Linked DNA regions of Homo sapiens. The protein of the gene in region 1 purifies or fractionates together with the protein of each later gene. This does not show direct contact. Each region holds a gene or a part of one and is shown in the gene's direction. Other genes may lie near its edges.

Region 1 (4,032 bases):
CAGACGTTAAGCCATGCCCACGACAAGAATGACTTCTGAGATTCCTTCTCTGGATCATGATTTAGTCTTCAGTGGAAACCTGGTACTCCTCAGATTCCTCTGGTTCAACAGGCGGGGATCCCATCCCTTATCATCTCCTCAAATGCTAAAGGACCCTTGAGCAAAGCCAGGAGGAAGTCATCTAGACGTGAAACAGGGAGTATCCACACAGGCTGTGTTAATGACAAAGCTAAAAACATAGTAAATGACTTTTGAATTTACTGCTGTTATGAATTATCTATAGCAACACCTCCGGTCAGCTCTGTTATATATGTTATTGCGTTATTTCCCATTAAATGATGGTTCCTCTGACTATCTGATTGGCATTGACTATGTTTGTTGTAGAGATTGCATACATCTAGTTTAACTCTGGCTGTCAAATGAGAGCAGTTACTCTTATCAGGATGGGTGTCAGGTTTGATGTCCCCTCCTTTTCCTGCTTCAGGTTAATTTGTCATGTTCTGTTTTAAACTGAGACATATAGCTTGACCTCCTTTATTTAGGCCATTAACTGCTCTGGGGTAGTTTTCCTGAAGGTTAAAAAGCCTAGCTTCATGATGGAGGTTAACCAACATGACCATGATGGCCAGGTGTATAAATCTGGCCTCTTAAAAATCTGTATTTGAGGCTGGGTGCAGTGGCTCACACCTGTAATCCTAACACTTTGGGAGGCCAAAGCTGGCAGATCACTTGAGCCCAGGTATTTGAGACCAGCCTGGGCAACATGGCAAGACCCCTTCTCTATAAAAAATTTAAACATTAGCTGGGCATGGTGGCATGTGCTGTAGTCCCAGATACTTAGGAGGCTGGGGTGGGAGGATGGCCTGAACCTGGGAGGCAGAGATTGCAGTGAGTTGTGATCTTGCCACTGCACTCCAGTCTTAGCAACAGAGTAAACCCTATCTCAAAACTTAAAAATCTGTGTTTGGCCCCTAGCCGTCCTCAGCTCTTGAGTAAATCTCAGCATCCTAGGCTGTTACATTATGGCCCAAATATTCAATAGAGATGCTGTATATCCTTGTTCCTCTCAAAACCCCTCCTCATCACCATCAAAAAGCTGGTTCAGTTCTCTACCTTTAGATAAAGAATCATCCCAAGACTCAACATGAGCTGCCGTGACTTGTCCAAGATGACACCTCTTTACAATGTAGAGCAGTGGACAGAACACAGGTCACCCTCCGCCGAAGGCAACTATCTACTGTCTAACATTGCCTCCTAGGCCTGCCATATATAACCATCAAAAACAGTTTAGAATAAAGTGAATTGTTACAATTTTTATTTTTCATTTTTGTGTTTACATTTACTCTCAATGACATGTTTATTCCCACCTAATATCTTGAGGCTAACCACAAAATCTGCAGCATTTCCAGACAGAAGATACTTGTGACTTCCCTGTACTATCCACTACATACTTGACCTCTTTCTCTTTCTTCCTGTCTTCCCTTTCTCTATACCTTATTGTCTTTCTTTGGAACCTCTTGTAACAAATTTTGAGCCATTTCTCCCCTCACTACTCAAATATCACTTTTATGAAGGGGCGGGGGGGAAACTTAGGTGGCAAAAATATTTTACAGAAACAGTTTTAAACATGTTTTGAAGCATACTGGTCACGTGTTAGAAGGCCAAAAGCCAGGGAATTCATTCCCTTTCATTCATTGTGCTGTCTAGGTTAAGTTTTCACAGGACTTCTTGGTACACTGAGTTTGCCTCAGATTGTCTCCTGCCAGTTACAGGGAGTGGAGAGGACTTTGATATATTGGTAATTAGAAGCATTGCTGATATGGTCTTCGGTGGGAGAACCTGTGTCTAAGGTTCCTTCTCATCTGTATTCCAACACTTTCATTTAATCCTACTTCATAAGTGCCTCCAAAGCAAGGATTTTTTTTTTGGTTTAGCATGGTTTCTTTGATATAACAATAGACCGACCAAGATTTTCCTTATGCCATCTGTTTTTTTGTAATTATGATGCAATAGAGAACTGTTTGCTTGTTTATCATTTAAATCTTGCCTTCTTCCCAAAACGATTTCAAATAGCTTGAAGGAAAATGAATAAAATATATTGAGCACCTACCCTATGCCAGACTCTATACTGAAGGGTTTCTATAGGTTATTTCATTTACTCCTTAAAACAACCACATGAGATAAGTAGTATTAGCCACATTTTTGAGGATAAGACTGAGGCTTAGGGAAATTGTGTTACAAGGCTAATAAGCGAGGTCAGGGATTCGAGGTCAGGGATTCAAACCCAGCGTGCCAAGGCCACTAACCATTATGTGGAAAGCTTAGGTAAGCGCTTGTATATAGGACAATCAAGAATAAAAGAATATGTCCATTAGAAGGATTGTACTGGGCTAATCTTTCGTTTTAAAGAACAGCAGCAGCATTGGAAAAGAGCGGTTAACAGTTTTTATTAGCCAATTTCTATTCTAGAACACTGAGAGGAGCTGTTGACAGGCCCTGGTTAGCCCCAGCAAGTAGTTGTATTAAAATTACCAAACTATAGGCCTGCATTAAGGTATAAAATAAGAATGGGGACTGGAAGGGATATAAATATCTGCTAAATATAATAATTTCAGTTCTAATCACTATTTTCTTCTGAAGATTATTTGCCAGTACATAGGCAGATCACTGTCTCTCCTTTAGGTTGATGGTATATGACTACAGACTTTGTCATTTAGGGTCCAGAAAGATCACCCTAGCTAGTAGCGTTTTAAGGTAGAGAACTAGATATTGTTTCATTGCCTGTGGTTTTCTGTTCTTGTAAGAGAATTGAGCTTGGGTCTTCACTGCCACGTGACACCTTCAGATAAGGGGCAGAGACAGCTGGCCTGAGGATTGTACAGAGGTCTTACCTTGATAGCTCCTCTCCAATCCTATGCATCCTAGGAACACTCAAGACACTAGGTTGTATCTTTGCAGATACTGTTTTAGTGTCTTCTGGAACCAAGTCTCTTACTTAATCCTGGCCTGGTTTCATATTCTCTCTATTGTATTCTCTCTATAGTTTTTGTCTTACTCTGGAACTCTTCCAAGGACAGACATTGAAGAAAGGTATTAGAATAGCAAAGGCAACAAATTGCAAGGTATACTTATGGCATAGCACATCCCATTAATTATAGAATAAAAACACAACATCTGTTTTCTGCCTCTAATATTAAATCTTGACATTTGCACAACACATTTTAGTTCATAAAGCTCTCATATCTCAGATAATCACTGAGTTAGGAGACTGGTTATCTGCAGAGGGCTTTATCCTTTACAAGGGCTCTTGGGTACGTTACTTCACGAAACCCTCAGGGAAGCTCCAGTTTCTTGGGGATCTGGGGCCGGGGCATATGTCTTTGGATACCCAGTTTGGTGCTGTGCACAGCACTGCTGTACCTCCTATTCATTTCCCATCTCTTACCCCACAAAGACTCCTTCCTTCATTCCTTCTATTGCTGATCTGTTTTCCTTCATCTTCCTAGGCTGCCAAAGTAAATGCAAAACAAGCACCAGAAATCTCAGCTTGTGATTTCTGAAGGGCATTTTTAAATGGCAAGTTTGGTGTGGCACTGTTACATGTTCTTTTTTCTTTGGAGAGCAAAGCCCTTTGAGAGAGCAGGAACTCTTCTGTCAATGCATACGTTGTAGGATCCATACTGTGGAATCTCTTGTACCTAGTGCTGCGTGAAAACAATGAGGATTCCAAGTCTACTTCACTGGACGTCGGTTCTCAAACTTTTAAGATACTAGAAGTCCTTTTATTAAGCCAAAAGACCCTATGTATTAATTCTGTCTTCCAGGGGTAGGAGTTGGGGTGGGGTTTGGAAAGCTTTGTCTGGATAAATAATTAGTATTGTAGTTCCATTTATTTGATGTCTGATTTTGCGCTTATTAAAATTGATTTAAATCCTCAATGGAAAATGATTTTTTTTTTTTCAAATGCCAAGTGTTGTGTGACTTGCATTTGGATTATTCCCGGTGCAACCTGAAGATTCCTTGTGATGAGTT
Region 2 (3,500 bases), on another chromosome or scaffold:
TGTGTATATTACTCTCTGCCGTAGTCACCTGGATACCATCTCTGGACTTACTAGTGTAAGAATTGACAACTAAATTTTTGGGTTTTGTTACTTAACATTAAAAAATGACTTCTCTTCTAATACTGGAACAGTTTTATAATCATTCATTTCAAAGAGGTATGTCTTTTTCCTAGGAAGAATAGTGTTTCTTGGAATATCAAGTTGGACTAGACAGAGTGTTCAGGGTAATAATCAGGGGACTGATTTAACAAATTGGATATTACAACACCTGTTATATATTAGATAGTCATAAAATATGTGTTCTGTTAATTATGGGCTAGCAGTTTCTTTGGCTCTGCTTGGAAGAGCATTTCATCTAGACTTAGTGAATTGTGTTTCTAGTTCTATAGAACTAAGGAAAGGTTTGGGTGGAAGTGAAAATATAAGTTAAATGAAAATTTTATTTTATCCTCCTGTTTAGATTTGTACTTTTTTTCGTTCCAGGCTTGTCATATCTTATTTTAATCATTTTAATTATTTCTGGCCCTGATATGGTATCTGAATTCTTTTTTTTTTTTTTTTTTTTGAGACGGAGTCTTGCTGTGTTGCCTAGACCAGAGTGCAATGGCATGATCTCAGCTCACTGCAACCTCCGCCTCCTGGGTTCAACTTGAAGCAATTCTCCTGCCTCAGCCTCCTGTGTAGCTGGGATTACAAGTGTGCACCACCACACCTGGCTAATTTTTGTATTTTTAATAGAGACAGGGTTTCACCGTGTTGGCCAGCTGGTTTTGAACTCCTGAACTCAGGTGATCCACCTGCCTGGGCCTCCCAAAGTGCTGGGATTACAGGTGTGAGCCACCGCACCAGGCCTGAATTCTTATATATTTATAATTCTATATTTGCTTGTTTTTTTTTTTGTTTTTGTTTTGTTTTGTTTTGTTTTGAGACAGAGTTTCTCTCTTGTTGCCCAGGCTGGAGTGCAATGGTGCAATCTCGGCTCAACGCAACCTCCGCCTCCCGGGTTCAAGTGATTCTCCTGCCTCAGCCTCCTGAGTAGCTTGGATTGCAGGCATGAGCCGCCACGCCTGGCTAATTTTGTATTTTTAGTAGAGATGGGGTTTCTACATGTTGGTGAGGCTGGTCTTGAACTCCCGACCTCAGGTTATCTACCTGCCTAAGCCTCCCAAAGTGCTGGGATTACAGATGTGAACCACTGCACCAGGCCTGAATTCTTATATGTCTATAATTCTTTTTTTTTTTTTGGATACAGAGTTTTGCTCTTGTTGCCTAGGTTGGAGTGCAATGGTGTGATCAGGGCTCACCGCAGCCCCTACCTCCTGGTTTCAAGCGTTTCTCCTGCGTAGCTGGGATTACAGGCATGTGCCACCACGCCGGGCTGATTTTGTATTTTTAGTATAGACGGGGTTTCTCCATGTTGGTCAGCCTGGTCTTGAACTCCTGACCTCAGGTGATCTGCCTGCCTTGGCCTCCCAAAGTGCTGGGATTATGGTCGTGAGCCACCGCGCCCAGCCTGCTTGTTTTTTTACCTAAAGAAAAATTTGCACTTGTTTTAATTAGTTATAGGAAAATCATGATTATAAAATTTAACAAGTTTTAGCTTTATAACTTTACTATGAATATTGTCTCACTTTATTTTGATTTTTGTCTGTCTTATTATTGTATAGTCCTGTTTCTTAGCCAAATAAGTGTTAACTCCTGCCTAGGAAGTCATTCCATCCTATGTCTCTGTACGGTTTTACATTGCTTATGGAAGAGAAGCTTCTGTTCCAGTTAGTCTCTCTTCCATGACACAGACTCCTGACTTCTGTTATTTCATGTTTTCTTTATTTGTATATCACATTTTCCTTTTTCAAGGACCTTACTCTTCTGTTTTCATTCAGTCTTCCTCCTGGACTTACCTGTTCATTTGTCTTTCCTTTTCCTAACTCCTTTTGCTTTTTTTAAAAAAAGAGCACAGTATCTGTAATAGCATCCTATATAAAAGTCTGATTATACTGTCCTTTTAGGGGGTATGTTTCCAAATTACAGTAAACTCGTGAATTTGGTGAGATCATGATATGTGAGTATGGTTCTAGAGATATATGAGGGCCTCACATGGAAAGGGAACTAGTGAGTACTAAGAGAAGATTGGAAGGGTAACGACTTAATTTTGCAGATTTTCTGCCAAAAAAAGCCATTTTTCTCATTGTAGCATGACATGAGTTGGAGTCATACAGATTCAGGCTTAAATCTGCCCTGCTCATGAAGGGAGTTTTGGGGTGATAGAGTGTTATATAAAACTGGATTGTGGTGATTGTTGCAGAAGTATATACATTTAATACATTTATCAAATCTTTCACTTAAAATAAGTAAATTTTACTACACGTACATTATGCTTTAATATAACTATTAAAAACAATTTTGCTCCAGTATTTACCAGTTTGCGATATCAGGCAAGTCATGTAACATCTGAGCTGTAGTTCAGTCAGTTAACAAATGAGTATGGTAATGCCTGGTTTCCTGAGATTGTTGAGGTGAGGACTAAAAATAATACAGGGTATGCAGCTGGCCAATAGTAGGTGCTCAGTTAATAGCAGCTGCAATTCTTAAACTGTCTGTTTATATGGACCAAACATAATGAATTTGCTGCCACCACCTGGTATGGTAAACTTAGTGTGTGCTTATCTGGTAATGACTAGAAGAATTTCTATGTTTCTCTTCACCGACTTCCCTCTTCTGGCTTTTTCATTAGTCTGCAGTGCTTTATCCTCCATCGAGATAAAAATGCTTTATCCTCCAGAATCTCTGCATCTTTTTCTAACGATTTCTTCTTTTCCCTATACTTTTAGAAAGAAATCCACTGTCTGATCTGCACTGTCAACACTATAACAAATCTCTTCTGAGGTCGCTAGTGACCTAATTGCCAAATCTTTTAACTGCTTCTTTTTGTCTTAATTCTGTAACATTTAAAATTTTTGCTTCTGGGGCTTAATGTGGTCTCATAGTTATGACCACCTCCTTCACTTCCCCTCGCTAGACTTTCCTTTTTTTGAGCCAGAGTTTTGCTCTTCTTGCTCAAGCTGGAGCGCAATGGTGTGATCTCGGTCCACTGCAACCTCCGCCTCCCGGGTTCAAGCGATTCTCCTGCCTCAACCTCCCGAGTAGCTGGGACTACAGGTGCACTGGGATTACAGGTGCGCGCCACTGTCCCTGGCTAATTTTTTTGTATTTTTAGTAGAAATGGGGTTTAACCATGTTAGCTAGGCTGGTCTCGAACTCCTGACCTCAGGTGATCTGCCCACCTTGGCCTCCCAAAGTGCTGGGATTACAGGCGTGAGCCACCGCACCAGACCTCCCCTCACTAGACTAATGTTGAGACCTTTAAGTGTCCTTTACTGTCATCTTTAGCTCTTACTATGCTTTTAACTTTCACCTTAGTCTGTTAGAAAACGGAATTATTTACAAGGCAGTTTCTTCCTATTCTTGACTCCATTGTAGCCAGATTAATTTTTCCTAAA

What was found.
Region 2: the proteins of ZNF202 (region 1) and ZMYM2 purify together in Homo sapiens (co-immunoprecipitation; 3 studies listed by BioGRID and IntAct, with this or other methods). This does not show direct contact.

Annotation. Positions count from the first base shown.
Region 1 is NC_000011.10:123,734,944-123,738,975, reverse strand, and holds part of ZNF202 (zinc finger protein 202), read left to right. Parts: intron 1-4,032. UniProt on the Homo sapiens protein: Transcriptional repressor that binds to elements found predominantly in genes that participate in lipid metabolism.
Region 2 is NC_000013.11:19,965,227-19,968,726, forward strand, and holds part of ZMYM2 (zinc finger MYM-type protein 2), read left to right. Parts: coding exon of another isoform or gene 1-55; intron 56-3,062; exon of another isoform or gene 3,063-3,176; intron 3,177-3,500. UniProt on the Homo sapiens protein: Involved in the negative regulation of transcription.